4 linked regions of the Homo sapiens genome follow. The protein of the gene in region 1 interacts with the protein of each later gene in a pairwise test. Each region holds a gene or a part of one and is shown on either strand. Other genes may lie near its edges.

The links.
Region 2: the proteins of ZNF669 (region 1) and ZNF330 interact in binary tests that used the Homo sapiens proteins (3 or more experiments, as listed by UniProt).
Region 3: the proteins of ZNF669 (region 1) and CEP70 interact in binary tests that used the Homo sapiens proteins (3 or more experiments, as listed by UniProt).
Region 4: the proteins of ZNF669 (region 1) and CDR2L interact in binary tests that used the Homo sapiens proteins (3 or more experiments, as listed by UniProt).

What each region holds. Positions count from the first base shown.
Region 1 is NC_000001.11:247,100,972-247,110,073, reverse strand, and holds the start of ZNF669 (zinc finger protein 669), read left to right. Parts: upstream 1-5,717; 5' UTR 5,718-5,874; coding exon 5,875-5,877; coding exon of another isoform or gene 5,878-6,135; intron 6,136-7,960; coding exon 7,961-8,087; intron 8,088-8,282; coding exon 8,283-8,343; intron 8,344-8,754; coding exon 8,755-9,102. UniProt on the Homo sapiens protein: May be involved in transcriptional regulation.
Region 2 is NC_000004.12:141,230,394-141,235,972, forward strand, and holds the end of ZNF330 (zinc finger protein 330), read left to right. Parts: intron 1-1,045; coding exon 1,046-1,092; intron 1,093-2,131; coding exon 2,132-2,249; intron 2,250-3,321; coding exon 3,322-3,596; 3' UTR 3,597-4,304; downstream 4,305-5,579.
Region 3 is NC_000003.12:138,569,347-138,577,622, reverse strand, and holds part of CEP70 (centrosomal protein of 70 kDa), read left to right. Parts: intron 1-4,638; exon of another isoform or gene 4,639-4,690; 5' UTR 4,691-4,695; coding exon 4,696-4,764; intron 4,765-6,266; coding exon 6,267-6,357; intron 6,358-6,465; coding exon 6,466-6,589; intron 6,590-7,096; exon of another isoform or gene 7,097-7,124; coding exon 7,125-7,305; intron 7,306-8,276.
Region 4 is NC_000017.11:74,982,563-74,991,380, forward strand, and holds the start of CDR2L (cerebellar degeneration-related protein 2-like), read left to right. Parts: upstream 1-5,069; 5' UTR 5,070-5,481; coding exon 5,482-5,560; intron 5,561-8,818.

The sequences.
Region 1 (9,102 bases):
AGGCTGAGATGAGCCTGAGATGCCTCAAAAAGCTGTCTTTTCGGTTTAGCAATATCTAATGTTAAATTATCTTCTTTTCCTTGTAGGTGACGTCTAATCATCTCCCAATCGTGTTCAGTGGCATTGTAAGAGCTAGGAGTAATACAAAACTCAGAAGTATTCCAATCACATTGCATTTGAATTCTATGCTCCAAGCTCATAATCCGATCTCCCATCCAAATTACTGTTTGACGGAGATCATTAATTTGATTTGCCAATTTTTGATCTATTTGGCTTTGGGAATTCCAAAGCTTAGAATAATTTTTCTGCCAACTACCCACAAAGTCCGCAGTTTGAATAGAAGAGTGCAAAGCAACACCAGCAAGGCCCAGGACCACAGCTATTAAAGTAAATAGGAATCTCTTTGATCTATTAAGTATTCCTTTTAGTACTTCAGTGATAATATGTATGGAGGGACAGGCCTCCCAAGGTCTATTGAGGAAAACAGGTATCCAAACTCCTTCTCGGGCCCTAACCAGTAAAATGCTATTATCTTTATTAAAGGCAGAAATAATGCAGGTAAAAAGACGACAGTTGAGGCATGATATGGTTTGAGAGTCAGGTAAGATATTAATTTTTCCCACTGCCAACATAAAAGGAGGTTTAACACAACTCTGCAATGGGACCATCTGATTAGAGGTCATGGCTACAACAAATCGAAGTTTTTTACTATGGGTCTCTGTTTTACATTCTGCTTTCCAAATCCGAATTGGGCTTTGAGCCATCATTAATTTCCACAATTCTGGATGTTCTGGGCTTATAATTGGATCAATAATTTTTGGGCTTGGAGGAGCCATACCGTTCTCCTCCCACTTAATAGGGTAATTTGTTTCAATTCTTCTATGTAATTTTGGTGCATTATCTGGGTAGTCGTTTGCAAAATAGTCTCTCTACAATCTTCACTCTGTCCAGTACAATTTACTGCAAATTGTCCCCTAGGGGCCCAATCAATGATGATTCCATAGGAATTATTTTGTAGTACAGCAGCACTGTTTGCAATATAATCTTCCCAGGTTAGCACCTCTAGCTTTTCTGACCGTTTAATAACAGGAGGTTCTTATTAGGTTTAAATTTATTAATCTGGCGATGTGTCACAACATAGCCATGCTCAAGGTATTTAATAGTGTCCAAAGATTGAAATGTTCTTCCACTGATTGCATGAATAAAGGCTTTTGATCCGTTATGTGCAGGAACATAAACCATCCAACTTTGTGTATCATAATTTAAAAATCCTGCTGCTGGCCCCAGGCAGATGGCAGGAAAGCGATAACCAATAGAAACATTCATTAACATTCCTCCTCCTCCTCCTTCCTCCTATTACAAAAATAGGTGTAATTTTGATCTGCCTCTGCTACAGGAAGACTCACCACCAAGGAGATTACCGCCATCATAGCTACCATTAGATTACTGGTGGTCAGCGGCTTGTTCTGAGACCTCAGGTTCTCTTCTGCAATGTGAGCCAGTCTCTTCATCTGCCCCCAGGTCGGTGGAGTTGCTTGGGGAGTTTTACTGGTTTCCATCTGCTCAACAGAGATGTTCATCTGAGCCGTCTGACGAACTGGGGGCGCAGAGACATTCTGAGGTCTTTTCCTCTTCTTGGACTCTGTCTCATGGCACAGCTTAAGATGTCTTGTGGGTACCCAGACAGGAAGCTGATTCTCTCCTGGTGAAATACAAGCAAATCCTCAACCTCAACAAGACCCACTGGGGCCTTTTGTTTGGGCCAGTTTTTTGGCCATTGGTAAAGAGCTATGATCGACACATCTGCTCCTATGTTGACCAGACCCTCAAATTGTTTTCCTTGAATGGTGACCATACAAATAGGTCTATTGTCAGAGACTTGATTTACCCAATAGGCAGCCTTGCCTGCTGAATTTGTGCTTCCAAATCCTCCTATTCTTTTTTCTGAGCTTTCTCCTAACTTAACATACGGCAAAAGCAACAGTTGAGCTATTCTGTCACGTGGATTAGCACTCCAGGGAACAGTGGAGGAGATAACAATTTGAATTTCTCCGTAGCAATCAGAGTCCACTACTCCTGTATGTACTTGAATTCCCTTTAAGTTGGACCTTCCCAGTATAAGTCCCACCGTGCCATTTGGCAGTGGGCCATAAACTCCTTTTGGGACCTTCCTGGACTGCGGCTGGCTTCCCAAAGTGGGGAAGAGGGCTGGTTGAAACCTGCCTCAATCCATTTGGGAACACTCCATTTGGAGTCAGGGATGTCCCGTCCTGAATTGGGAATGCCCCGTTTTGAATTGGGGCCCGGTCCTGAGTTTTGCCTTTTTTGCCTCTTTGTACACTCTCTTTTTGTATGTCCTATCTGTCCACAATTATAGCAAGACCTGGGGAACACTCATGTGTTTTTTGTTACCCTTAGTCCAGCCATTGCCTGAGCAAGGAAGCTGGCCTTATATAAGTGCTCCCCAATGCCATCACAGGCTTTAATGTATTCACTTAAAGCTTTTTCCTCATTTAGATCTGCCTTTCCTTTAATAGGTCTAATTGCTGCCTGACATTCTGTATTAGCATTTTCATCAGCAAGCAGCTGAACGATCACTTTCCTGGCATGAAAATCTGAAATAGCCTTTTGAGCCGCATCTTACAAACGGGCAATAAAATCTGGATAAGGCTCCCTTGGACCCTGTCGAACTGAGTTAAAACACGGATAAGTTGTACCAGGGTTGTGAATTTTTTCCCAGGCTCTTAGGCATATAGTTCTGACCTGATCAACAACCTCATCACCCATTACCATTCTGTTGATTTAGAGTACCCCATGTGATTCCAAGCAATTGATCAGATGTGATATTAACGGGACGTTGGACTTGAGCATTTCTGCATGCCCGATTTGTTGCTTCATCTGTCCACCAGGTTTTAAATTGGAGAAATTCAGAGGGGGACGGAGTGGATTGGGCTAGTGCCTCCCAATCCATAGGTATTAAACGCCTGTTATAAGCCACAGATTGTAACAAGGAATGAACATAAGGAGAATTTGGCCCATATTGTCCAATTGCTTGCTTTAAGTATTTTAATATTTTAAAAGGAAGTGGCTGCCAGCATGCTTGAGCATGTTCTCTGGGCTCCTCAACTGGCGAATTAATTACCAGAAACTGCAAAGCATCCAAATCCCCCATTTCTCATGCCTGGCGAATGGATGACGGGATTGTCCCCGTGCCATAATTTGTATTTGGACCGGCTCGCAGCATTCCTCTACCACAATTAACAGGTGGTAGAGGATCATTCCCTGATCGTAATTGGCTGTTAGGCGAGCCTGAAGCTTCCCTTCGCCATAGTTATTGGTGGGGCCTGCAACAATGGGAGCGGCAAGCCGCGTCTCAGGCTCCAGTTCCAAAAATTTGTAAGGCTGAGCCGGGGGTGGCCATTCCAGACCTTCCCCTAAAGGCGAAGTAGGTGGCACTGTTTCTTTTATAAGTTTTTGGAGATTAGCATATATACCTTCCCGTTTCTCGGCCTTTTTAAAACTAGACTGTGATGGTTGATTTTGCTGATCATTAGACTCCTGATTATTAAAGTTTTCTATGTCATCCTGAAGCTCCTCCTCAGTGTGGAAGGGCTCCAGTGCTGTTTTAATTGCAGGCCACGCAGACCAAGCAAGAAGGGAATATCGTGGCCCTCTTGTTGTGCTCGTTTTAAGTCTGATCCGACCTTGTCCCAGTCTTTTACATTCATGGTTCCATATTCCGGGAACCAAAGAGAATACTTTTTTACCAGATAGAACAAAGATGGGAGATTTTGGGTACTCACAATTACCCCTCCGCGGCGCAGTAACTGCCGGACAAGGCTTCAGTAATTAGCAAACTTACTCTCAGCCTGACCCATAGTTTCCGGAGGTTACCCTGGAATTTTCCGAGCGCCCTACTTACCTGTAGAGCTTGAAGTGAAAACGTACTCGGGCGTCCTTTGTCAGTCATCCTCCACTTTCCACTCTCTGGCATTCCTTCACTGGATTATTTGTAGAGATTACCGGGAGCCCGGCGTTGGGCACCAGAGACCAGCCTGGGCAACTGAGGGAGACCCCATTTCTACGAAAAAAAAAAAAAAAAAATTAGGCAGGCGTGGTGTCCAGTGCCTGTAATCCCAGCTACTCCATGAGAGATTGGACAAAACCTGGGACCAGAGACTGATTTTCTTCTAAAATGCTTTCTCCAAAATATTTTTAAAAGAAAAGGGGGAAATTGGAAAGGAAAATGTTTTGAGCCCCCCAGATCACTAAGCTAAAGGGGAAAGTCAATCTGGGAACTGCTTAGGGCAAACCTGCCTCCCATTCTATTCAGAGTCATCCCCTGCTCACTGAGATGAATGCATATCTTATTGCCTCCTTTGGAAAGGCTAATCAGAAACTCAAAAGAATGCAACCGTTTGTCTCTCACCTACCTGTGACCTGGAAGCCCCCTCCTGGCTTCGAGTTGACCCGCTTTTGCTTCAGGTTGTCCCGGATCAAACCAGTGTTCATCTTACATATGTTGATTGATGTCTCCTGTTTCCCTAAAATGTATAAAGCTGTCAGATACAGTCAGTTTCTCTTCCAAGGTTTGGCATGTTAACTTTCTTGTTTTTTTGTTTTCGAACTCAACTTTCTTGTTCTCCATGCCTCCTTGCCCTTAGTTACTGTAAACAACCTTCCGTCAGTTCTAATCAATAACTCACATCTGTTCCCTTGGTTACCTGCTCTGCACCCATTTCTCCCTTGGAAACCGCAAGTCCCACCATTGTAACTCACATCCCCCTTCCCCCTTCCTTATTTGGGAAAATATTCACAAATAGCCAACCGGGTCAGTTTAGATCGTGCGGTCTGACCCCAGCCCATGCCAGAGGTAGGGACTGCGTTAGGAATAAAAACCCCTGCTTTCCTCTGTTCAGTGTGCTCTTGCGATCGTGATTGATGCGAGCAGCACGCTTCTGCAGAAGTAAATTGCGTTGCTGAGAAAACTTTCGCTTGAGTGCTGGTTTCACTTTGCGGCACCGAGCATTTCTCTCCAACAAAACCAAGCTGTGCTCTGACCACCTTGGGCACATGTCATCAAGGACATCCTGAGGCTGTGTCATGCATATGCATCCCCAACCTTGGCAAAATAAACGTTCTAAATACTCTTACCCCAAATGCTCAGGGAGACTGATTTGAATAATCATAAAACTCCAAGCCTGCACTCCAGCCTGGGAGACAGAGCAAGATTCTGTTTCAAAAAAATAAAATAAAATAAAAAAACTCCGGTCTCCCGCACAGAGGACACTGCGTGAATTACTCTTTCTCTATTGCTATTCCCCTGTCTTGAGAAATCGGCTCTGTCTAGGTAGCGGGCAAGGTGAACTCCCTGGGCAGTTACAGAACTGTCATTATATTGCTTCCAATTTTATATATATATATATATATAAAAGGCACAAATAGCTATAACTTGTATACAGGTTAAATGTGAATGTCCTTCTTGCATGGTCGGATCCCAGCGCAGGAAGGACGCACCGCCTACAAACCGCTAGGCCAAAAGCGGTCATTCTGACCTCATCCAGCCTCACGTGAGATCGCAATCTCCTGTCACTCAGGGCCTGAGGGGCGGGGCCTGAAGCCCCATCCAATCAGGGGCGCTGGGGTGGGGACCGTTCAATCAGGCGCGCCGCCGGAAAGGAGAGGGCGGCTTCCGGGATCTGCCTGGCGGTTGCTTTGTCTCTCCTTCGCCGGAGCCGGCTCTTCCTGTTAGTCTCCGCTGCTAGTTCTTGGCTCTGGGAGGCCCAGGTGGCTCTGCAGCAGCCTCTGCCACCCTGTGACCTGCGAGTATTGGGACATCCCTAGCTGACGCCAGGACACCCGGGAAGCCGAGGAATGGTGAGTGGACTGCGCCTGGCTTCCCGAAGTGGAGAAGAGGGCTGGTTGAAACCTGCTGTGGCGCGACTCGGGCCTCCACGCCATCGGCTCCGGAACCTGCGGACCGAGTCGCCGTGGCGTAGCCGGGGCTCAGTCCTCTTCTGTTCAGGGCCGGGCCGGGCGGGGCGGGCAGCGGAACCCCTGCATCCTGTCTGTACCTGCGGGCGCCACTTCCGCCGGCCGGAGCCCTGTCGGGAACCCCTCGCCTCCCCTATCCAGGTAGTGTGGTGACCACGGGAGGGTGATGCGGGAGAGCCCCGACTCGGTGTCTCGGTGTGCGGGGTTCCAGCATGGGAGGAGCTGTGGTTCATGGGGCTTCCAGTCCCACCTTTCTTCCCCTAAAATTAAGCCGAGGCTTTGTTAAAACGTTAAACCGTGTGTTTGAGCAAACGGCGATTCATAAACCAGGTACCGCAGTCATGGTTTGTGGTTTGGGGTCCACAGAAGGGGCGTAAATGAGAGGCTTTGATAAGGTTAATGAGGAAGCAAACCATATTCTTTTTTTTTTTTTTTTTTTTTTTTTTTGGAGACGGAATCTCGCCCTGTCGCCAGGCTGGAGTGCAATGATGCAGTCTCACTCATTGCAACCTCTGACTCCCGGGTTCAAGCGATTCTCCTGCCTCAGCCTCCCGAGTAGTTGGGATTACAGGCGCCCGCCACCACGCCCAGCTAATTTTTGTATTTTTGGTAGAGACAGGGTTTCGCCATGTTGGCTAGGTTGGTCTCGAACTCCTGACCTTAAGTGATCCGCCCGTCTCGGCCTCCTAAAGCGCTGAGATTACAGGCGTGAGCCACCGCGCTCGGCCAAAATATTTTTCTGTTTACAAACATTTTACATGAGAGGAAAGCGGAGAATAAACCATCTGACACTCTACTGTAAAAAAATCTTTGTGCCTCTCTTCATCTTTCCTAAGTGTGCATATTACCAAAATGTCTTTAGGTTGATGTCCCCCTGTGAAAACTTTACAGGGTGTTGTGTCCTCAGCCCTTGGTCTGCTTGCTCATCTCTCTGCTAATACTGTGCTGTCCTGAATATTTTTGGTTGAAAATCTTAAAAGTATGTTAGGCAAGACATAACTCTTTTTTTAGATGACTGAAAATCATTAGACATTTGTCATTTTTACTAGGTATGAAAAACTAGTTTTTCTTGCCTAAAAAAGCCTGATTTGGGAATTTATGTGATTTCACAGGAATAGCATCTGGAAGTGGTGACATTAATGTCATTTTAAAAAACATGTGCCATATTTCCTCTTATTCCATTCTGCCTTGACATTGTGCAATAGAAATTTAAAAATTGTATTAGTAAATTGTTAAATATCAATTATTGGTTTTATTTACTACTCAATTAAATTTAATAAGCCTATTCTCTCTTGGTGTAATCACATGGAATGGGCTCAACTCCCCAATTAACAAGTGACAGCACATATAAAATATTGTCTACCAGGGAAACTCATTAAACACTTAGTGTTCAGACTGTGTTTTGGTGTCTGGTTCCCTAAGCACCACTGCAGTGACACAAAATAATAGACCTTTAGCAGAAAAAGTTTTGGCAACTATATTGCATAAACCATTTAGATGCAGTGAGTCATTCTTATTACTTAGGTTGGTGGAATCCCTTTCAAAATGTAAGTTACTAATACAAACAAAGATTGAACTTTGTGAGCAGGCATTTTTAAGAATAAGTAGTCTTAGGACTGATATTATTAACTCACTTATGCACATCAGGTAGGACTTTATTATGGCAGATACTAGAAATGTACGAAGTGAAATTAAGAGGTAACCTAGCAGCACATCTTACTCCCTGGATTCTCTAATGAGATGGGTATTTCCACTTTGCTGTTGCCTTTTTGAATAGTTCAATTCTAGCATTAGTACTGCTGTGTGGGAGGGAGTATGTGTGAACAGAGTAAGAGTTGTGACAATCAAGTCATAGAATAAATGCTTGGAAATTATCAAATCATGTAAACAGCTTATGAATTGAGTATAGATTCCCAGTGCTGTCAGTCTCACCCATCCTTCTATCCACATGTGTGGAATGTTCTAGGACTCGGTGGCTTTTGAGGATGTGGCTGTGAACTTTACCCAGGAGGAATGGGCTTTGCTAGATTCTTCTCAGAAGAATCTCTACAGAGAAGTGATGCAGGAAACCTGCAGGAACCTGGCTTCTGTAGGTAAGAATGACAACACATTTCAGTTAATTACAGAAGTCTTTCCCTATCATCAGTGCTATTTATGATTTGGAATGTGGCAAGGGAATGATTTGGTGAATAAATCAGGCATGGGCACTGTGTACAGTGAACATTAAATCTAGTAATGTGTCTACAGTTTGTAATAATTCATGATAATTTTATGGGTCTGCATTTTAGGAAGCCAATGGAAAGACCAGAATATTGAAGATCACTTCGAAAAACCTGGGAAAGATATAAGGTAATTTGCACTGAGCAGAGGAAATAAAGTCCTCTGAAGGAATCTTAGCATGTCATGAACTTAAAAACAAGCAATCAAAACAAATAAGAGTCACTTGAAATTTATTTATTTTTAGAAAAATTTCACCCAAAATGTAACGTACTTCAATGTAGCAGTCAGTGTTTGCAAAAGAGTTTACTTGAAAATAGTACTACAAAACTGTGTATATGAATATTACTATTTTGGTCATAGCCATGCAGGTGGTAGCTGTGTTTTCAGTAGTAACCCATTTACTTTGAAATAATTCAGTCATGGCAAAAAAAAAAATGCATTTTCCCTGATATTGGTAGCAGTGTAAGTCCAAGACCTATTAATAAGTAGAAAGTTATTAATAAACCAACCAATAATAATGTGCTTGTCATTTTTTTACAGAAATCATATCGTACAGAGACTGTGTGAAAGTAAAGAAGATGGTCAGTATGGAGAAGTTGTCAGCCAAATTCCAAATCTTGATCTGAACGAGAACATTTCTACTGGATTAAAACCATGTGAATGCAGTATTTGTGGAAAAGTCTTTGTACGTCATTCCCTCCTTAATAGGCATATCCTAGCTCACTCAGGATACAAACCATATGGAGAGAAGCAATATAAATGTGAACAGTGTGGGAAATTCTTCGTTTCTGTTCCAGGTGTTAGAAGACACATGATAATGCACAGTGGAAATCCAGCTTATAAATGTACGATATGTGGGAAAGCTTTTTATTTTCTCAATTCAGTTGA
Region 2 (5,579 bases), on another chromosome or scaffold:
CTTTATTTTCTGTTTCTAGAAAACAGAACAGTCAGAATATAGTTGTAAATTTTTCAGCAGGGATGCCAGTGGCATATTGGTTGGGCCAGTTTTTCATTTTGTAGGCTTGATTTGATCAGGCATTGCAGGACTTACACCTTTCGTGGTTCAGAGTACCACATGTCATTTTTACCTTCAAATTATTATAAAAAACCAAACCTCACCCTTCCTTCCCATTTCCAAATGCCCTCCCGTAAGAGATACCACCCTGTTTGTTTCTGCTAGTTGGTTCTAGTGATTCTTAGACAGGACTGTATATCAAAAATACCTGTGGAGGTTTTAAAAATAATGTAGATGTCCAGGCCTCATCCCTGGAGATTCTATCTTTTAAGTCCGTGGTGGGTGCCAGGCACCTGTATTTAACCTATACACAAAATTCTCACGTATTTTCCAGTTGAGAGCCAGCATTGCTGACTGGGTAATAGTATCATCTTTACACATAGTTTTTTTCTTGGAAGGTTCATTGAAATGAGACACCATATAAAACAATAGCATGTGGTACTTGGCATTTAAAAAGCCCTTTTTAAATAGTAGTTACTATTATAGGAAAAAGACCGAAATTCCCCAGGTATTCTCTTCCTTTAATTTGGTTCTTGTTCTGGTATGAAATCCTAATTATTATACTTATTTATAAATTTAAAGTAGATAAGTCATCTCTGTGATATACATACAACATACATACTACACACACATAGACACACAATGTGTATGCATGTGTATATAATTCTTGCAATATTTATATATAAAATTCTCAGATTAAAAGAGCATCTCGAAGTATATAGCATTTTTGAGCCTTTCGTCGCCTTTTGCAGAATGTATAATAATAAATTTAATTATTTTATTTGCAGCATGGGAGCTTTGTGTGTTTTATAGCATTTGAACCCAAAAGACAGGCAGCTGTCTATAAGGCTATATTCCATTGCAAGCTTTTAGTGATTTGATAAAAGACAAAAGAAAATTCTAAGAACCAAATAACGGGATTTTAAAATTAATCTATTTCCCACAGGTGTTTCATGCAATCGGCTTGGTCAGCACTCATGTCTCCGTTGTAAGGTATACCAATGCGTTTTTTTCTTTTTAGATTTTGTTTTTAATCTCTATACCCCTCCACCAGTCCTTGGCTTATATGCAGCTATAATTAATTTATAAGGGACCTTAAAATTATGTAGTCTAATTCTTTTATTTTTGAGACTGTGGAATTGAAGTTGAGAAAGCTTACATGACTTTCCAATGGTCATCCAGTCACCTTTTAGTAGAGCTGTGGCTAGTGCACATTTCTCTGGAATCCTGGCTCTGTGTTTTTAGTGGAGAACATTCTGACCAAGATGATGAGAGTCTATTTTAATTAATGTCAAAATATACCTGCTTAGAAGAGTTTGGGTAAAGATTTCCAAATTTTTCTGTGTCCTTAGGCCTAGTCTCTAGCATTCGTTCGTCAAAGATTACTAAACAGATGCAGCCAATGCCCTTCCTCTCAGAAGCGTTTCTCTAGTTCTTATATTCCTAACCCTATGTCTTATTTATCTTCCAACTCTGTTCTAGTTTTACCAAATGGTGTTCAGGCATTATCTGTGTTTTCTTTGTCTGGAATACTTTTCCATCTTGGCTTACCCTATTGCCCTCCCATTCTTCATATGGCTATTAAGACTTCGTGTCTCTAAGATGCCTTTCCCAAATCCCATGTCTGCTTTAGTGCCCTTCCCTCTGCACTTCCCGTTCAGTGCTTAGTGTCTTGTAATTGCCTTTTCACTGTCTCCATCCCTAGTTAGACCATACACTGTGTGAGAGTAAATAGGCTGTTCACCATTATTTCATTTCATCAGGGACCTTATGAGTACTGAAATATTTGTGAACAGCTAAATGTACTTACATGTCATACTCAATATAGTCTGCCTTTTGTTAGATCATTGTTCAGAAGGGTCCTGACAAAAACCATTTCTGTTAAGAAAATGAAATGAGAAGTGTGACTGCTCCCAACAAAATTGTTAATCTCACTGCCTTAATAAAGCTATATCTTTAAAACACTGAATACTGTCTTTTTGTATATTTTTACATTTTTATTTATTTACTTTATTTTGCTTCTCCTATACAGGCTTGTTTCTGTGATGATCATACAAGGAGCAAAGTGTTTAAGCAAGAAAAAGGAAAACAGCCTCCTTGTCCTAAATGTGGGCATGAAACTCAGGAGACTAAGGACCTTAGCATGTCAAGTAAGGCCCTTAAGATACTAAGGAAGTGATTTTTGCTTTCATACTTAGACAAAGTTTATCTTTTTTTTTTTTGGTCTATTTTTCTTATTGCCTCTTCTTATTTGAAAAGATGAATGTGTTCTTTTAAGCAAGTGGAATTTTACAGCTTAGGAAAATATGTGGGTAAAGTTTTTCAGTTTTACTTAAATAGACCAATATTCATTTTGATATTTGGTATTTGCCTTAGTTAATGACAGCAAATACTGAAATTTAAGATAAAGAGTGATTTTTTTTTATTTTTGTTGAGTCTTCCTTGTTAAATAGTTGAGTAGCTATAATTCCTTAATATTAAAGTGGTGGTAATTTTAAGTACCTAGAAGTCAAATTCACTCTGAAGCTATCTTAGGTGTGTGATATTTGAGCACCTATGTTTATTTATGTAATATAGCACTACTATAGGAAATTATTTTATGGTTTTTATGTAACTTTTTTTGTGAAGGAATAAGCATGCTTATAGTAATGCAGCTCGCAATTTTGTTAAAGAGAAGTTTGACTCTTAACCAAACATATCAGAATGGAACCATAATTCTAAGTGACTGACTGCTTTGTTTAATCACAGATGTAGTTGCATGGTGAGGTGAGACTGATGATTTTGCTGATCTTCTGCACTGAACTTTGTGTCACTATTAAGGCAGAAGAAATGACAGGCTTTGTTTTTAAGGGCATCTGCATTGTAAAATAGCTGTCTTAAGAAAAATGTACTGATACGAAATCAGCTGTATTCTGTGATTTATGTGATTTGAAAATAAACTGTCAGTGGCCAAACGGAAGGTATTTTTGTTTTAAACATGCCTTAATACCTTTGGAGTGGTCTGTTGGTCTAATTTGTTTTCTAGATTTAATGAAATTACACTGTAATTTTTATTTTTTATGGTGTTGTATATAGACTCAGGTGAAAAAATTAGGAAAATGTGACCTATTTTTTCATTTGGGATTGAAGCAGCCAATGAAATCCATGAAATTTTATAGAGGAAGATGAGAATGTAGAGAACTGGAACTAACAAAATGCCTTGTACTTGTCTGTCTTCTATAGCACGCTCCCTGAAATTTGGCAGGCAGACTGGAGGTGAAGAGGGAGATGGAGCTTCTGGGTATGATGCTTATTGGAAGAACCTTTCATCTGATAAGTATGGTGATACCAGCTACCACGATGAGGAGGAGGATGAGTATGAAGCAGAGGATGATGAAGAGGAAGAAGATGAAGGCAGAAAGGATTCAGATACTGAGTCATCAGATTTGTTTACTAATTTGAATTTAGGAAGGACCTATGCTAGTGGCTATGCTCACTATGAGGAACAAGAGAACTAGGGGAGCTGCTCTGGTGGCCGTGTGTGAGAGGAGCAGGAGTGAGTGTGTGTGCTTGATGAATTGTGTGTGGTTGTTCAAAAGTACCTTAGCCACTTAGCCTTGTGCAGAAGACTAGTTACACTTAATGGGCCAAGCAATAGGGTGTAGCGTTTTTATAGAACTGATAATCAGGCTTATGGCATAAGAAAAATGAGTTTCAAATTTAAGATGTTTATTGATCGAAGCAATTGAAGTATCATGGATTGGATTGTTACTGATTTCAGTAAAGTATGTTTTGCCAATTAGATACATATATACAAGATAAAGGAATAGGATGGTAATATATTTGTTTGAAATTAAATTACTGTTTTTATTAAAAAATACTGCTTCATTGGGCTGATTTTGTAAAATGTAATGAGTAAAATGAATTACTGTATTTTTCCTTTTATGTCCACAGAATGAGAGTCATATGTTGTTATATTCTAAATTTTCATTAAATATTCATGTCACCTTGAGTTGTCATGATAAGTATGTTTTAGTATTTGACTTATTCTTCTCTTTCTTCACAATGTATGTCCTCAGTGGTACCTATTATTGATGCCTTAAATGTATTGATAAGGTGACTAGTTAGCCATTTTTCAGAGATACAGTATCAGAAATAGTATTATTACAGAAGCTTTACCCAGGACATTTTATTTCTCTTTGAATAAATCTATTATTTCACTTAAATACTTTTGACATTATATTTAATTTTTTGTTCTGTATTTTCAGTTTGTTTTGGAAAGCATTCTAATTTTTTTACAAACTGCTTCAGTTTTCACACATATGGAAATAGGTAATAGAGACTGTGTGGTATACACTTAAAGATAAGCAGCCCAGACCCCATCATTGATAGGTGGAGGACAGTCCTGTCACAAGTCCCAGTTGTTACAACTTAACACTGGCATTTAATAGGGATTGGGTAGTTGTACAAGGAGAGACAATATCTGATTGCCTCACATTTTAGATGTATGGAGAAAATTGTAGCTATGAGGATAACAGGGTTGAATGGCCATTGTTAAGCCATTTTTGTTCTATAGAAGCATACTTAACAGCCAAGGACAATAACAGGCAATGGAAAGCCAGGTGTCAAAGTTAGAGGGCCTCTGGTGGCATGTGAAAAAGCTTTTCACCTTTTGCAGTAGGACGGCTTGAAAAAACTGAGGAGCAAGCCCGAGACTTAATAGTTTCAAAGGATAAAATTTAAAGACAGTTGCCAGCCAAGGCAAGTCTATTATGCCAGCATCGGCAAACTGCTTGGGAAAACCTGTGACCCTGACAAATTAGATGGAGACATCTGAATCGATGGTGCTGGAGATTTTTACTCCCCAGACTCCTGCATTTCTGAGTTTGCAGTCATAGCCCACCCCTCCATGTTAAGGGCAAGCACTCCCCACTTCATTCTCAGGCTGGATGACAATGCAGAGGCTTCTTTCCTCGGGAAACATGCTCTCTTCAAGACTTGCCCTATCTCTAGGCCATTATAGTTAGTATCTCCAGGCCTAAAATTAGGGTTAAGTGACGATAAAGTTAAGCAAAACTCAGTTGAGGTGCTGGAACTGAAGTGGGAGGAAACAAGACTATGCCCCAAAAGAACTGCAAGAATTACGAAGAGTTGGAGGAATATGCTTGAGATTGGAATCAGTGCTTAAGAGGGTCAAAACATAAAATTAGGGAGGAGTTTGATGGCAGCCCTGACACTGGATCTTTGGATTGCTAAGAGTTAAATTAGAGGGTTTTAATAACCTGGCTAGGATCCTGTGAGATGGTGCGAACTCATTACCAGGATGGCTTCTTGAAATATGGAAAAAGTAATGGTCCTTTCTGAGCAAAGTCGAAACACTGGGATTACTGTGACATGGTGGAAGAATGGATTTAAATGGTTAAGGGAATTGGGTATGCTGGAATGGATTGGAAGATGAGATGATTATGTTCCATGGGAAGGCTCAGTGGACACACCATTTA
Region 3 (8,276 bases), on another chromosome or scaffold:
AGGCTGGAGTGCAGTGGCACCATCTCGTCTCACTGCAACTTCCATCTCCTGGGTTCAAGTGATTCTCCTGTCTCAGCCTCTCAAGTAGCTGGGATTACAGGCATGAGCCACCACACCCGGCTAATTTTTTATATTTTTAGTAAAGATGGGGTTTTGCCATGTTGGCCAGGCTAGTCTTGATCTCCTGACTTCGTGATCTGCCCGCCTTGGCCTCCCAAAGTGCTGGGATTAGAGGCATGAGCCATTGTGCCTGACCCTTGGGTTTATTTATTTATGTATTTATTATACTTTAAGTTCTAGAGTACATGACAGCGTGCAGGTTTGTTACATATGTATACATGTGCCATGTTGGTGTGCTGCACCCATTAACTCGTCGTTTACATTAGGTACTTCTCCTAATGCTATCCCTCCCCCATCCCCCCACCCCACGACAGGCCCTGGTGTGTGATGTTCCCCTTCCTGTGTCCAAGTGTTCTCATTGTTCAGTTCCCACCTATGAGTGAGAACATGCAGTGTTTGGTTTTCTATCCTTGCGATAGTTTGCTCAGAATGATGGTTTCCAGCTTTATCCATGTCCCTACAAAGGACATGAACTCATTCTTTTTAATGGCTGCATAGTATTCCATGGTGTATATGTGCCACATTTTCTTAATCCAGTCTATCATTGATGGACATTTGGGTTGGTTCCAAGATTCTGGTATGTTGTGTCTTTGTTCTCATTGGTTTCAAAGAACATCTTTATTTCTGCCTTCATTTTGTTATTTACACAGTAGTCATTCAGGAGCAGGTTGTTCAGTTTCCATGTAGTTGTGCGGTTTTGAGTGAGTTTCTTAATCCTGAGTTCTAATTTGACTGCACTGTGGTCTGAGAGACAGTTTGTTGTGATTTCTGTTGTTTTACATTTGCTGAGGAGTGCTTTACTTCCAACTAAGTGGTCAATTTTTGAATAAGTGTGATGTGGTGCTGAGAAGAATGTATATTCTATTGATTTGGGGTGGAGAGTTCTGTAGATGTCTATTAGGTCTGCTTGGTGCAGAGCTGAGTTCAAGTCCTGGATATCCTTGTTAACCTTCTGTCTTGTTGATCTGTCTCATATTGACAGTAGGGTGTTAAAGTCTCCTATTATTATTGTGTGGGAGTCTAAGTCTCTTTGTAGGTCTCTAAGGACTTGCTTTATGAATCTGGGTGCTCCTGTATTGGGTGCGTGTATATTTAGGATAGTTAGCTCTTCTTGTTGAATTGATCCCTTTACCATTATGTAATGGTCTTCTTTATCTCTTTTGATCTTTGCTGGTTTAAAGTCTGTTTTATCAGAGACTAGGATTGCAACCCCTGCTTTTTTTTGCTTTCCATTTGCTTGGTAGATCTTCCTCCATCCCTTTATTTTGAGCCTATGTGTGTCTCTGCACATGAGATGGGTCTCCTGAATACAGCACACTGATGGGTCTTGACTCTTTATCCGATTTGCCAGTCTGTGTCTTTTAATTGGGGCATTTAGCCCATTTACATTTAAGGTTAATATTGTTATGTGTGAATCTGATCCTGTCATTATGATGTTAGTTGGTTATTTTGCCCATTAGTTGATGCAATTTCTTCCTAGCATTGATGGTCTTTACAATTTGGCATGTTTTTGCAGTGGCTGGTACTGGTTGTTCCTTTCCATGTTTAGTGCTTCCTTCAGGAGCTCTTGTAAGGCAGGCCTGGTGGTGACACAATCTCTTTGCATTTGCTTGTCTGTAAAGGATTTTATTTCTCCTTCATTTATGAAGCTTAGTTTGGCTGGATATGAAATTCTGGACTGAAAATTCTTTTCTTTAAGAATGTTGAATATTGGCCCCCACTCTCTTCTGGCTTGTAGGGTTTCGGCCAAGAGATCTGCTGTTAGTCTGATGGGCTTCCCTTTGTGGGTAACCCGAGCTTTCTCTCTGGCTGCCCTTAACATTTTTTCCTTCATTTCAACCTTGGTGAATCTGACACTTATGTGTCCTAGGGTTGCTCTTCTCGAGGAGTATCTTTGTGGTGTTCTCTGTATTTCCTGAATTTGAATGTTGGCCTGTCTTGCTAGGTTGGGGAAGTTCTCCTGGATAATATCCTGAGGAGTGTTTTCCAGCTTGGTTCCATTCCCCCCATCACTTTTGGGTACACCAAACAGACATAGATTTGGTCTTTTCACATAGTCCCATATTTCTTGGAGGCTTTGTTCATTCCTTTTTACTTTTTTCTCTAAACTTCTCTTCTCGCTTCATTTCATTAATTTGATCTTCAATCACTGATACCCTTTCTGCCACTTGATCAAATCAGCTACTGAAGCTTGTGCATGTGTCACATAGTTCTCGTGCCATGGTTTTCAGCTCCATCCGGTCATTTAAGGTCTTCTTTACACTGTTTATTCTAGTAAGCTATTCATCTAATCTTTTTTCAAGGTTTTTAGCTTCCTTGTGATGGGTTTGAACATCCTCCTTTAGCTTGGAGAAGTTTGTTATTACCGACCTTCTGAAGCCTACTTCTGTCAACTCGTCAAAGTCATTCTCCATCCAGCTTTGTTCTGTTGCTAGTGAGGAGCTGCGATCCTTTGGAGGAGAAGAGGCGCTTTGATTTTTGGAATTTTCAGCTTTTCTGCTCTGGTTTCTCCCCATCTTTGTAGTTTTATCTTCCTTTGGTCTTTGATGATGGTGACCTACAGATAGGGTTTTGGTGTGGATGTCCTTTTTGTTAATGTTGATGCTTTTCCTTTCTGTTTGTTAGTTTTCCTTCTAACAGTTAGGTCCCTCAGCTGCAGGTCTGTGGGAGTTTGCTGGAGGTCCACTCCAGACCCTGTTTGCCTGGGTATCGCCAGCAGAGGCTGCAGAACAGCAAATATTGCTGCCTGATCTTTCCTCTGAAATCTTCATCTCAGAGGGGCACCTGGCTGTATGAGGTGTCAGTCGGGCCCTACTGGGAGGTGTCTCCCAGTTAGGCTACACGGAGGTCAGGGACCCACTTGAGTAGGCAGTCTGTCCGTTCTCAGAGCTCAAACACCATGCTGGGAGAACCACTGCTGTCTTCAGAGCTGTCAGACAGGGACATTTAAGTCTGCAGAAGTTTCTGCTGCCTTTTGTTCAGCTATGCCCTGCCCCCAGAGGTGGAGTCTACAGAGGCAGGCAGGCCTCTTTGAGCTGCGGTGGGCTCTACCCAGTTCAAGCTTTCCTGCCGCTTTGTTTACCTACTCAAGCCTCAGCAATGGCAGATGCCCCTCCCTCAGCCAGGCTGCCACCTTGCAGTTCAATCTTGGACTGCTGCGCTAGCAGTGAGCAAGGCTCCATGGGCATGGGACCCACTGAGCCAGGCATGGGATATAATCTCCTGGTGTGCCACTTGCTGAGACCATTGGAAAAGCGCAGTGTTTGGGTAGCAGTGTCTGGATTTTCCTGGTACAGTCTGTCACGGCTTCCTTTGGCTAGGAATGGGTAATCTCCCTACTCTTGCACTTCCTGGGTGAGGCAATGCCCCACCCTGCTTCGGCTCGCCCTTTGTGGGCTGCACCCACTGTCCAACCAGTCCCAACGAGATGAACCAGGTACCTCAGTTGGAAACGCAGAAATCACCTGTCTTCTGCATCAGTCACACTGGGAGCTGCAGACTGAAGCCTTTCATATTTGGCCATCTTGGATGCCCTTGGGTTTATTTTTAAAAATGCATCATTATAGTCTTGTTTTTCCCCTTTACTAGTTAGAAAATTATATACTTCTGTTCAGTTCTTCAGTGGATGTCCTAGAAATTCTCAAGCATCCTTAACTTATACAAAAGCCCAGTGTTAACAGATACCTTTACCAGTGTCCACCTCCATTGTAAACAAACTTAGAACACTGTTACTCCATTTACCCTACTCTCAGCTAATATATTTCTGTTACTGTGCATTTTAATTGTACATTTTATACTTCACAAGATCTCATTATGTAGTCTGTGTTTAAACTCGCCCATTTTTTTGCTCTATTTTTTTCTACATCTCTGCTTTTCCATCAGGGAGTCTTCTGCATGAAGCAGCTTCTTTAGAATTTTTTTACAGAGCAGATGCAATGAACACTCTCAGATTTATTTTGTGTCATGTGTTTGAAAATATATTACTTTTGCCTTTATTATTCGTTAATGAATGTTTTCACTGGCTTTGGAATTTTAGATAAGCAATTATTTTCTTTCAGCACATTGAAGATATTAGTGTCTAGGTATGACTGACTTTTTTTTTCTTTTTTCTTTTTTTTTTTTACTGTATCCCAGTTGCAATATGTTGGGTTTCTAGAATGTGTGGATTTATGTCTTTCATTGATTCTCAAATTTTTCTTAGCCATTAGCTCTTCAAATGCTCCTTCTACTCCATTCTTTCCTCTGTTCTTGGGTACCAGTTATGCATTCTGTGGTGGGGGGTTAGACAGGACAGAGTGTATGTGTGTGTGTGGTATATGTGTAAAATCCCAGAATGCTTTATTTCCAGAGGAGAACATTATAAGATAGGGTTTATTCAAATGAGTCTTACAATCAGCTATCTAAGAAGTCACAAAGTTTTGACGCAGGAATGACCTGAATTGCCCTGCAAGAGTAGTGGATTCTTTTAAATATACTTTTCTTTAACTCCTTTTGCACTTTTTGTCTTTTTTCATTTAGGCAACTCAAATTTTTTAATTGCCAATTTCTGTTTCTTTTGATTCTACAAAAGTAACTATGTTTCCGGTAGCCCCTAAACCCCAGGATTCCAGTCAACCATCAGACAGACTCATGACTGAAAAACAGGTAAACTTAAAATATTTTAAGACACTGCTTCTCAAAATATGTGCCAAAGAATGCTACATCTACAAACAGGAAAATTTGACTTTAAAAGGATTCTTTCTCAAATAATTTTAGGAAATGCTGGGTTAAAGACTATGAAATGGTTTAATTACTCTAAGACTTCACAATATTAGTCTCCAAAGGGAGGATTTAGTATACAGCATTTCATACATACTTAACACTAGTTTGATGAACATTTCATTAGACTAGTGTTCTGTAGCATGTACTTTGGAAAATGCCATTCCCAACTATTTTCAGAATTTACAATTACTTTATCTTAAAATGTAAGAGGTATCAGGAAACAATATGTATAAGTTAATCATTCAAAATATGTGACTTTATTATGTATAGAGCATTTTGTTTTTATGAGTTACAGTAGAAGTTCTGAGACACTAACTCAGAGCTTTTGGCTCCTAAAACAACATCAATGTTAATTTTAGTTGTGTCTACCACGTAGTTAAACTCTGTGATCAGAAAGACTAAAGCATAAATGAGAGAAAAGTTATGAGTGGGAGGAGATGTAAAAAAAAGGAGGAAGAAGTCAACAGTCAAAAAGAAAGACTTGTTTGACTTTGAGAGTGTCTTTCAGGGTGATTCTGTTAGAGTCAGTTATCCAGATGGACGGGCTCCTTTTTATAGTTAGACCTTGTCCATTTGACAAGGAGCTGTCTGAAATATTGGCTCCAACTAGTCAGGTATGTTTTGATTTTTTTGTGACCCTAGTCATTATGAAAGTGATACTTAGGGGCTGGGGCGGTGGCTCACGCCTGTAATCTCAGCACTTTGGGAGGCCAGGGCGGGTGGATCACCAGGTCAGGAGATCCAGACCAACCTGGCTAACACGGTGAAACCCCATCTCTACTAAAAATACAAAAAATTAGCCGGGCGTGGTGGCGGGCGCCTGTAGTCCCAGCTACTCGGGAGGCTGAGGCAGGAGAATGGTGTGAACCTGGGAGGCAGAGCTTGCAGTGAGCCGAGATCGTACCGCTGCACTCCAGCCTAGGTGACAGAGCAAGACTCTGTCTCAAAAAGAAAGAAAAAAGAAAGTGATACTTAGAAGTGACTCACCTTTTCTTTTCTTTACTATCCAGTTATTATAGCCTAGTTTACAGCTGTTTATTCTGAGCAGGGCTTGGTTTGGCTTAGTTAAATCTAAAACCTTAGATTTATTTGATTCACTGAAATTACAAGGTGTTTTTGTTGTTGTTGTTGGTTTTGTCCATTGAGGCCTACATATGAGTATTCTGTATAATGCAACAATTTGTGCTTATTTACATACTTCTAGTCTATTACTAATTTTGCTAGAAACAATAAATGTGTTTTTTGGATATTATATATGCATAAACATTTATACTTAAAACTTTTGAAGAAAAAGTTCTATTCTGAAAATGCAGGAAATTATATATGAGAGAATTTCTTCACTTTATATCTAAAGTTAACCCTTTCTTCTCTTTCTGTAATTGTAGCAGGAAGAAGCAGAATGGGAAAGCATAAATGTGCTATTGATGATGCATGGCTTAAAACCTTTGTCTCTAGTCAAAAGAACAGATCTCAAAGGTAATTAGATCCTATTCTTGATGCTTAAGGTAAAAAGTTTATTTTTCCTTAAAAAATTTTTTTTGCCTTTTATTTTTACTATCTGTATTATATACTTTTTAAATGTAGATCTCATCATTTTTGACAAACAGTCATCACAAAGGATGAGACAGAATTTGAAATTGTTGGTGGAAGAAACATCATGTCAACAGAACATGATACAGGAGCTTATAGAAACTAATCAACAGCTTAGGTGAGAAAATGGAAAAGATTTCTTTTGAATTGTTTGTATGCGTTCTAAAAATAACTGCCTTGAAAAAAATCTTGAAATTTAATTTCCCATTTTGATTAAATATTAAACTAAAAAATATTTTTGTAGGTAAAATTTTAATAGGTAAATCTTTTGGTAATAGCTTAGCATAGATGTTTAATGGTACCCTATATTTCTTCTATTAGTTTCTGTTGCAGGATGAGCATCTCAAATCTGAAAATCTGAAAGGCTCCAAAAATTGAAACTTTTTGAGCACCAACATGATGCTTAAAGGAAATGCTTATTGGAGCATTTTGGATTTTGGATTTTCAGATTTGAGATGCTTAACTAGTAAGTATGATGCAAATATTCCAAAATCTGAAAAAATCTGAAATATGAATCACTTCTGGTTCCAAGCATTTTGGATAAAGAGAATGCAAAGAAACTTTAGAAAGGCAATACATTCTTATATGGATATGCTTGGTAATTCGATTTATTTTTAATACTAAGGGAAGAAATTGTATGTCTATTAACTTAGAAATGAACTTCAGCTAGAGCAAAGCCGAGCAGCCAATCAAGAACAACGAGCTAATGACTTGGAACAAATTATGGAAAGTGTGAAATCCAAAATTGGTGAATTGGAGGATGAATCACTAAGTAGGGCTTGCCACCAACAGAATAAAATAAAAGATCTTCAAAAGGAGCAGAAAACTTTACAGGTACTGAGTTATGAATTCTTAGATGATGGTTAGTTAGTACTAAAACAGCTCATTATGGTCCCAGGTGACTTCCATGTTGTTTGATTCAGTGGTTTTTACCTTTTTTGGCTTATCACTGCTACCTTGAAATTCTCTTCACTTGGTTTCTAGAATGTCCTTTATTTCCCTCTGACCTCACTGATCATTCTCTAATTTCTTTTGCTGTTTTTTTTTCTCATCTCCCTAACCTCTTAGTGTTGGAATTCCCCAGTGCTCAGTCCTTAGATCTTTTCTCTTTCTTACATACTCTGATGCCCTTGGTGATGTCAATCTAACATAGGATCCAAAATTTATATCCGTAGCCCAGTCCTCTCCCCGAATTCCAGACTCATATCCAGCTGCCTACTTGATATCTCTACTGGATATCTAATAGGCATCTACAACTTTGTTTGTTTATTTGTTTACTTTTTTGAGACAGCGTCTGGCTCTGTCACCCAGGTTGGAGTGCAGTGGCGCAATCACAGCCCAGTGCAACCTCTGCCTCCTGCACTCAAGTGATCCTTCCACCTCAGCCTCTGGAGTAGCTGGGACTACAGGCGCATGCCACCACGCCTGGCTAATTTTTATATTTTTTATAGAGACAGGCTTTTGCCATGTTACCTAGGCTGGTCTCAAACTCCTGAGCTCAAGTGATCCGCCTGCCTCGGCCTCCCAAAGTGCTGGGATTACAGGTGTGGGGCACTGCACCTGGCTGGCATCTACAACTTTTTATGTCTAAAACTGAGTTCTTTTTATAGAAATGGCAATTTTATAACATTAAATAATTAACTCCCTAATTTTAAAAAACTATTAAAACTTGGGTGTTTATTGTGATTAAAAGAAATGAATCTTATGCTGGTAACTAATGTTTAGTTGTATGAGTTGTTTCTGATCTTTACTAACATTATGTCATTATAAACATTGAGTCCTTATTTTAGTGGTTTTGCTGACAC
Region 4 (8,818 bases), on another chromosome or scaffold:
CCCATCCAGAACCTGGGCTGGAGGTGCTAGGGAGCTCTGGGAGCCTGGGCTGCACGCAGGGAAGTGCTCTCGGCCGCCGGGGTCACAAGACTCCAGGGCTTCACAGTGCCCAAGGCTTGGTGGACATCGAGCCCACCGGGGAATCTTTGCCATCAGCGCCGTGTTTTGATGCCCGCGGCAAGGAACACCACGAAATAGGTTTCCTGACACTCAGGTGAGGTGCCAGGTCCTGGGTTACCAAGGTCAGGTCAGGTGGTCTGTACTTGCCACCCCTGGGTCGGCTCTCTACCCTGCTTGACTACATCACAGGAAAAGGCTGGAAATGGATCCGGGGCTTGTTGACCTGTAGCTCATGGAGGCTGAAGAATTTCCTCCTTGAAGGCAGACCTGATTTTCCTCCTCACGGAAGAGTTTAGGCCAGTCATAGGGTGTTTTTCTTCTATTTATTTTATGTTATGTTATGTTATGTTATGTTATGTTATGTTATGTTATGTTATGTTATGTTATGCTATTTTATTTTATTTTAGAGACAGAGTCTCACTCTGTTGCCCAGGCTGGAGTGCAGTGGGGCCATCTCAGCTCACTGCAACCTCTGCCTCCCGGGTTCAAATGATTCTCCTGCCTCAGCCTCCTGAGTAGGTGGGATTACAGGCGTGCACCACCATGTCTGTCTAATTTTTGTATTTTTGGTAGAGATGGGGTTTCGCCGTGTTGGCAAGGCTGATCTAGAACTCCTGAGCTCAAGTGATCCGCCCGCCTCGGCCTCCCAAAGTGCTAGGATTACAGGCGTGACCCACTGTGCCTGGCTTCTTCTTTAGTAAATAAACTATTTTATCAAAGTATAATATATCTTCAGAATAGTGCACACATCTTAAGTGTACAGTTGGGTGAATTTTCACAAAGTGAACACACCTGTGTAACCAGCACCCAGCTCAGGAGATAGAATTCTCCTGAATGGGAGTTAGTGTTTAATGGTACAGAGTTTCAGTTTTACAAGATGAAAATAGCTACGGAGATGGATGGTGGTGATAGTTGTACGTTATAAATGTATTGAATACCACTAAACTGTACACTCAAAAATGGTAAATGGTAAATCTTATGTGTGTTTCACCACAATCGTAAAAAAAAAAAAAGAAAAAAGATCAGCTGGGTGTGGTGGCACAAGCCTGCAGTCCCAGCCATTTAGGAGGCTAAAGCAGGAGGATCACTTGAGCCCAGGACTTTGAGGTTACAGTGAACTATGATTATGACACTACACCCCAGCCTGGGATCCCATCTCAAAAATAAGTTTAAAAAATTTTAGAAAAAGATTCCCAGCCACTTAGAATTCTCCACATGCCTTCCCAAAGCCAAACACTATCTTGATTCATTTTGCCAGTTTTTAACTTTATTATTATTTATATTTTATAGAGACAGAGGGTGGCTGTGATGCCCAGGCTCGTCTCAAACTCATGGCCTCTAGTGATCCTCTTGCCTCACCCTTCCGAGTAGCTGGGATTCCAGACACATGAACTTTATTTTTATTTTTATTTTTTGAGACAGAGTCTCGCTCTGTCACCCAGACTGGAGTGCAGTGGCGCAATCTCGGCTCACTGCAAGCTCCACCTACCCAGTTCACGCCATTCGCCTGCCTCAGCCTCCTGAGTAGCTGGGACTACAGGTGCCTGCCACCACGCCCAGCTAATTTATTTTTTATTTTTTTAGTAGAGTCGGGGTTTCACCGTGTTAGCCAGAATGGTCTCGATCTCCTGACCTCGTGATCTGCCTGCCTCGGCCTCCCAAAGTGCTGGGATTACAGGCGTGAGCCACTGCACCTGGCCATGAACTTTATATAAAATGGAATCATGCAGTGCTGTGATAGAATCATAACCACTAAAGATATCCACATCCTAACCCCCAGAATCTCTGAATATGTTACCTTGCCCAACATAAGGGACTTTGCAGATGTGATTTAGTTAAAGACATTGAGACAGGGAGATTATGCTGTATTATTCAGTGTGCCCAGTTTAAGCAGAAGAGTCCTTTATAAGAGGGAGGTGGAAAAGGTAAGAGTGATGGGATGTGAAAAAGACTCCACCTTCTGTTGCTGACTTTGAAGATTGACAAAGAGGCCATGAGCCAAGGACTATGGGGTGGCCTCTAGAAGGTGCAAAAGACAAGGAAACAGATACTCCCCTGGAACCTCCAGAAGGAACACAGCTTCTACCAATGCTTTGACTTTAGCCAGTGATCCTTGTCAGACTTCTACAGAATTATAAAATAATAAATTTGTGTTGTTTCAAGCCCATTAAATTTGGGGTCATTTGTTACAGAAGCAATAAGAGACAAATACAGGTATTTACTCTTTGTGTCTGGCATCTTTCACTCAACTTTTTTTTTTTAGCCCAAGCCCATGACAGTAGATCATTGTATTTGTACTATATAACATTCCATTACATGAACATGCCACATATTCTTCGTCAACTGTTGATGGACATTTGTGTTGTTTCCAGTGTGGGCGCTTATGAATACTGTGGCTATGAACTTTCTTGTACATGTCTTTGGGATAAGGTATGTGCATATTTCTCTTGCACATATATAGGAATAGAATTTCTGGGTTATAGGGTATGCATGTATAGTGGCTGCTGTGATGTATCCCCAACTCTTTCAGAACGAAAGGACCTATTCCCTTAGCTGCTGGGAGGACCCCTGGCTGGCAGTCCCAGCTGCCAGGGCTCTGTGCAAACTAGTCTCAGCTGAAAAGAACTTATTTGGCCAAGGTCACACATGCCTCCTAGGAACGACCTGTGTCATTCAATGACTGGTTGATATGTAAGGGTGGGGGATATAAAGGCCCCCTCCCCCAATGATACCTGGAATAGCTTTGAAGGGTCACCCTGGATTCAAAGTTCTTCAGGGATCAGAGGAGGCTTTTGCAGAGGCTACATACCAACCCAGCTTCTCCCCCACCAACCCTGCTTCCCTCCCTTTCCTGCAGGTGTTGATCATGAGAGCACTCCCTAGTCAACTTTCTTTCTTTTTTCTCCCTCTAATCCAATATGATTGATATCCCTAATCAACTTCCTGCATGCTAATCTCCATCTCAGGATCAGCTGCCTGGGAACACAACCTACAACAGCTTACGTTATTCAGCTTTCATGGTTATCAAGCAGTCTTTTTTTTTTTTTTTTCCAAGACGCAGTCTTGCTCTATCGCCCAGGCTGGGTGCAGTGGCGCAATCTCAGCTCACTGCAACTTCCGCCTCCCAGGTTCAAGCAATTCTCCTGCCTCAGCCTCCCAAGTAGCTAGGACTACAGGCATGTGCCACCATGCCCAGCTAATTTTGTATTTTTAGTAGAGACAGGGTTTCACCATGTTTCCCAGGCTGGTCTTGAACTCCTGACCTCAAGCGATCCACCCTCCTTGGCCTTCCAAAGCGTTGGGAATTACAGGCATGAGCCACCACGCCCGGGCAGTTTTCTAAAGTGGTTGTCGTCCTATGTATTCCCTCCAGCAGGGTGAGAGAGTTCCAGTTGCTCAACATTCTTGCCAATACTAGGTATTTTTTGTCTTTTTTTTTTTTTTTTTTTTTTTTTTTTTGAGACAGGATCTTGCTCTGTCACCCAGGCTGGAGTGCAGTGGCATGACCACAGCTCCCTACAGCCTCAACCTCCTAGACTCAAGCAATTCTCCCACCTCAGCCTCCCAAAGTATCTGGGACTACAGCCGTGTGTCATTATGCCCACCTAATTTTTATTTTTAAATTTTTTTATAGAAATAGGATCTTGCTATGTTGCCCAGGCTGCTCTTGAACTCCAGGCTCAAGTGATCCTCCCAACCTCGGCCTCCCCAGAGTTCTGGGATTATAGGCATGAACCACCACGCCTGGCCTTTTTTTTTTTTTTTTTTTTCCCTAAAGCCACTCTGGTGATTGGGTAGTGATACCTCATTGTGGTTTTCATTTGCATTTTTCTGATGGCTAAAGAAGTTCAGTACCTTGTTGCATATTTATTCAGTTATTTGTGTATCCTTTTTTGTGAATTACCTGGTCAAATCTTTTACCCACTTTTCTACTGGGTTGCGTGCCTTTTTCTTATGACTATGCAGATGTTCTTTCTGTATTCTGGATACAAGTCATTCGTTGGGTATATCACAACATTATTCAGAGATTCTCAACGGCACCAGCACATTAGGGTCCCAATAAAAATGAGTTACGTGAATGCTTGAGTCCGAACACTCTTCTAAGGAAAGAATGCTTGGACAGATGCAAGTGTGTATAGTTTTAATGGGTATAATTGGATATAGGATATGGGTCCCAAGGAAAGGAAAACAGAACCTTGAATGCAGGTAACACACCCTCAAACTTTGCCACTTTCAGCCTGTGGTTTCTAGCCACAAGCACTTAAACACGCAGTTCCCAAAGGCAACTGTAAATTAGTATTCATTCATTCAAAGAATGTCGATGGAAGGTATCAATGACCAGCATGTTGTTTGTTTTTTGTTTGTTTGTTTTTTGAGGCAGAGTCTCCCTCTGTCGCCCAGGCTGGAGTGCAGTGGCGCTATCTTGGCTCACTGCAACCTCTGCCTCCAGGGTTCAAGCGATTCTCCTGCCTCAGCCTCCCGAGTAGGCATGCGCCACCATGCCCAGCTAATTTTTGTATTTTTAATGGAGACGGGGTTTCGCCATGTTGGCCAGGCTGGTCTCGAAACCCCTGACCTCAGGCGATCTGCCCGCCTTGGCCTCCCAAGGTGCTGGAATTACAGGAGTCAGGCATCGCGCCCGACTGGTGAGCAGCCTGTTCTAGGAAGTGAGTAGCCAGCTGTGAAAGAGAAACAATATTCTTGCTTCCAGGAGATCTAGGAGAGACGACAACTTCTAAAATAGCATAATTTTAGACATGAGACATAAACTGAATAGGTCGTAGGGGGAAGTAGGACGAAAGGGTTGATCAAGCAATTCCCAGACCAAGACACCAGGAGGGTCCCGCCCTCGGCCCCGCCTCCAGCTTTGCATACATCTCCTGATTGGTCGGCGGCGGCAGGCCCCACCCCGCGGAGCCGAGCTCCGCAAGCTGCAGGCGGGCTCCGCCAAGATGCAGCGGCGGCTCCGGTTGTCGCCGGGCGGGCCAGGAGCAGCGCGGACCCGAGCCGGGCAGGGGGCGCCCGCCACGGCACCCGCGCGCTCCTAGCGCCCCAGACCCGCCTGCGGGCCCGGATCCTCCTTGCCACTGTCCCACCCGCCGTCCCTGCCACTCCACCCTTTGTGTCGCCGCAGCCCGGTGCCCCCGGCTCTGCGGGACCCCGGCCGGGCCGGACCCTGGCAAAGCGCCAGGCCCCGCGTGGGCTCCCGGCGAGCGGTTGATGGCGAGGGGGCGCGGCGCGGGCTCTGTAGCCCGAGTTCCCGACGCTGGAGGCCCGGCCCGCCTCAGCCGCATTGTCCCGGGCCGCGCGCACCGGCCCTGAGCTGCGCCGCCGCAGCACCCGCCCGCCGCCCGCGGGGCCATGCGGAGAGCCGCCGGGATGGAGGACTTCTCCGCGGAGGAAGAGGAGTCCTGGTACGACCAGCAGGACCTGGAGCAGGGTGAGCGCGGGGGCGACCGGGACAGGAAGGCGGGGAGCGCCCGGTGACCCCTGTCCGCTTCTCCATTGTTGGGCGCTATCACCCCGGGAGGGGCTGGGCTGGACCGGGCGCGCCCGACTCGGAGGAGGGACGCGTCTGGAGAACCGGGACGTGGAGAGAGGGGGCGCTGCCGGAGAAGACGCGGACCGGACGGGCGGAGACCTGCAAAAGTGGGGGGCGGGGGGCGGTCTTCCTATTTTCCCAGACGACCGGGCATCCGTCATCCAGCTCGCCCACCCCGTCCTGGAGGCAGCAACTGCTCGGCCGCCCCTGGTATTGTTACGGGGCCTGAGCGCTAGCTAGGAGTCTTCTGAGGCCGGGAGGCGGCTCCTTCGTCATGTTTTGCTGGGAGGGTGGCTTGTGTGTAGAGGGAAGTTATCTCACGCCAAATCCAGCAGCACCCGTCCCTGACAGGAATTATGAGCTCTAAGACTCCTAGAAAGTTTCCCTAACTCGCTTCCTACTCAGGGAGAAGTGGTACCGCGTCTTTGCTGGTGAAGAAGCAGAAAGTCAAGTCTCCCATCTGCCTTCGAGAGTCAGGAGTCGCTTAGCCCTCCCCTGCCCGGTCCCCTTGCAAATGGCTCATGGTTTGGAGGGGGTCAGGTTCGGGAATCCCGGCCAGTGTGCCAGGCGAGAGACCGAATAAAGAGGGATACATCTCCGCTGCCCCCAGTTGCCATCTGAGGACAGAAAGGGCGACTGGAAGGGGGTTAGAAGCTGGTGATGAGGTGGCCGAAATGACATCACTGGGAGTGGGGGGTGGGGCTGTTGGGACAGAAAGGAAGAGGAGGCCTGCTGGAGTGGAGTCAGTTCTATCCTCTCCTCCCCTAAGATGCCTCCTTCTTGGATGGTGAGAGCTGGAAGGGGCGAGGAAACATGTCCAGGGAGAAGTGACCTTCCCATGGCCTCCAGCAAGCTGGGGGGTGTGGACATAAGTCTGCTGCAGTTTGTGCCATTGTGGCCTGCTGTGGTGTGCCCACACCCTGGTCTCCATCCACAAGGCTCCAGAGGGCTGGCTTTGCCCTGATGTGCAGCAGCTATCCGGATTCTGAAGCCCCTGACCTACTTCCCCACATGGCCAAGACTGGCTGGCAGATGAGGCTCTGTCCTTGTGCTGAGGACAAGGGTTAATCATAGCCTCAGGGGGACCAGGGTGGGACTGGGGATGCTGGACTAGGCCCTGCCATGGTCTGTGCCCTGGACTCTGGCCTCAGCCTCCTTGGCTGAAATGAGATACAGCTCCTCTCAAACACACACACACACACACACACACACACACACACACATCCACACATTGTGACAACCCCCTCTCCCATCCTGGGCAGTAAATTTTTCCATGAACACCTATTAGGCTCCCCTTAAGTACCAGACACCATCCTGGGAGCTAGGAATAGTCACAGCCCTGACCCTGAAGGTATACCCTGGCAGGTGAAGGAGGCAGGCTTGTAACTAAGTGTAGGTGGCACAGTATTTTTTTCTTTTTTCTTTTTATTTATTTATTTATTTATTTTCAGACAGAGTCTCCCTCTGTCACCCAGGTTGGAGTGTAATGGTGCGATCTCAGCTCACTGCAACCTCCATCTCCCGGGTTCAAGTGATTCTCCTGCCTCAGCCTCCTGAGTAGCTGGGACCACACCTGGCTAATTTTTGTATTTTTAGTAGAGACAGGGTTTCACCATGTTGGCCAGGCTGCTCTCAAACTCCTGACCTCAGATGATCCACCCGCCTTGGCCTCCCGAAGTGCTGGGATTACAGGCGTGAGCCACCACGCCCGGCTGGTGGCACAGTATTATGGGCAGTGGGGAGGGCTTCCTGGAAGAGCCAGGCTTAGAAAGAAAGATCAGAAACTGAGTTCTTGAGAAGATGGTTTTCAGGGAGGCCGATGCCAATATTGTTGCTGTCTCACTTAATTCCTGCACCCCTAATGAAGGCTTTGGCACTGTTCCTGGCCCAGAAATGGGAAAGGAGCCAGGGCATAGAGGTGGGAGATGCGCAGAGATGTGCAGCTTCTTGAGAGAGAGAAGGATCTGAGACTCCAGCTGCGCTGGGTGGCCGTGCTCTGGGCTGCCGGGAGGGATGGGCCCGGCAGGCCTCTGCTTCTCTGGCCCTGCTGGTCTGCAGCTGTTGGCCTGGCCTGGCAGCTCCAATGGTAGCCAAAGGCCAGGAACCAGGAGGGAAAGCAGAAATGAGACAGAATAAACTGGAGCTTCCTGCCAAAAGCTGGATGTCTGCTTACTGTGGGCCAGGTACTGTGCTGAGCCTGAGGACATAATCTCTGCCCTCAGAGGACTCCACGTTACATTAGAGAAGACAGAAATAGGACCAAACTCACAATGGCGTCAGAGTGAGGGGTTCTGCAGCTGTAGGCCCAGCAACGGGGACAGCAGAGACTTAGAAAGGTTTATGCCAAGGCCCTTTTGAGCTGGAGGCTCCCCAGGAGAGGGAGGGAAGAAGGCATTCCAGGGGGAAGCGATGCTTGTACCAAGTCATGGAGCGACATGAGAAGGCTGGAAAATAGGGAGGGAGGGGCTGAAGGAAGCATCAGACACGGGTTCTGTGGGGCATTCCCGTGGGCCCTGCCCGCCCTGTGCCCCAGGGGCCAGGCATGGAGAGCTGGATGGTGGGACGGAGCACGGGCCAAAGGCCAGCCATATTGGGTGTCAAAGGCCTGTTGCATCTCCCAACCCACAAATTCTCTTCCACCCAGCTGCTCCCTGGTTGCCTGTGAGTGGCCCAGAAATGGTTTTCTCAGCCAGCCACCTGGTCTTCCCTCCTGTCTGTTTCCTCCTGCCCAAAGGGCAGGCCCTGATTCCACTTTCCAGAAGCTTGACTGTAGAGATCCTGTTTGGCTTTGATGCTCTGTCCTGGTGGAAAGCAGCCGTGGGACAAGTGAGGTCCTAGATTCTCGCTGTGTTCCCTCTGCCCACTGCCACGAGCATTTATAAAAATAGAAAAAGCCAGCTGGGCACAGCAGCTCACACCTGTAATCCCAGCACTTTGGGAGGCCAAGGCGGGCGGATCACCTGAGGTCGGGAGTTCGAGACTAGCCTGACCAACATGGAGAAACCCCGTCTCTACTAAAAATACAAAATTAGCCAGGCGTGGTGGCACATGCCTGTAATCCCAGCTACTCAGGAGGCTGAGCCAGGAGAATCTCTTGAACCCAGGAGGCAGAGGTTGCAGTGAGCTGAGATAGCTAGCGCCATTGCACTCCAGCCT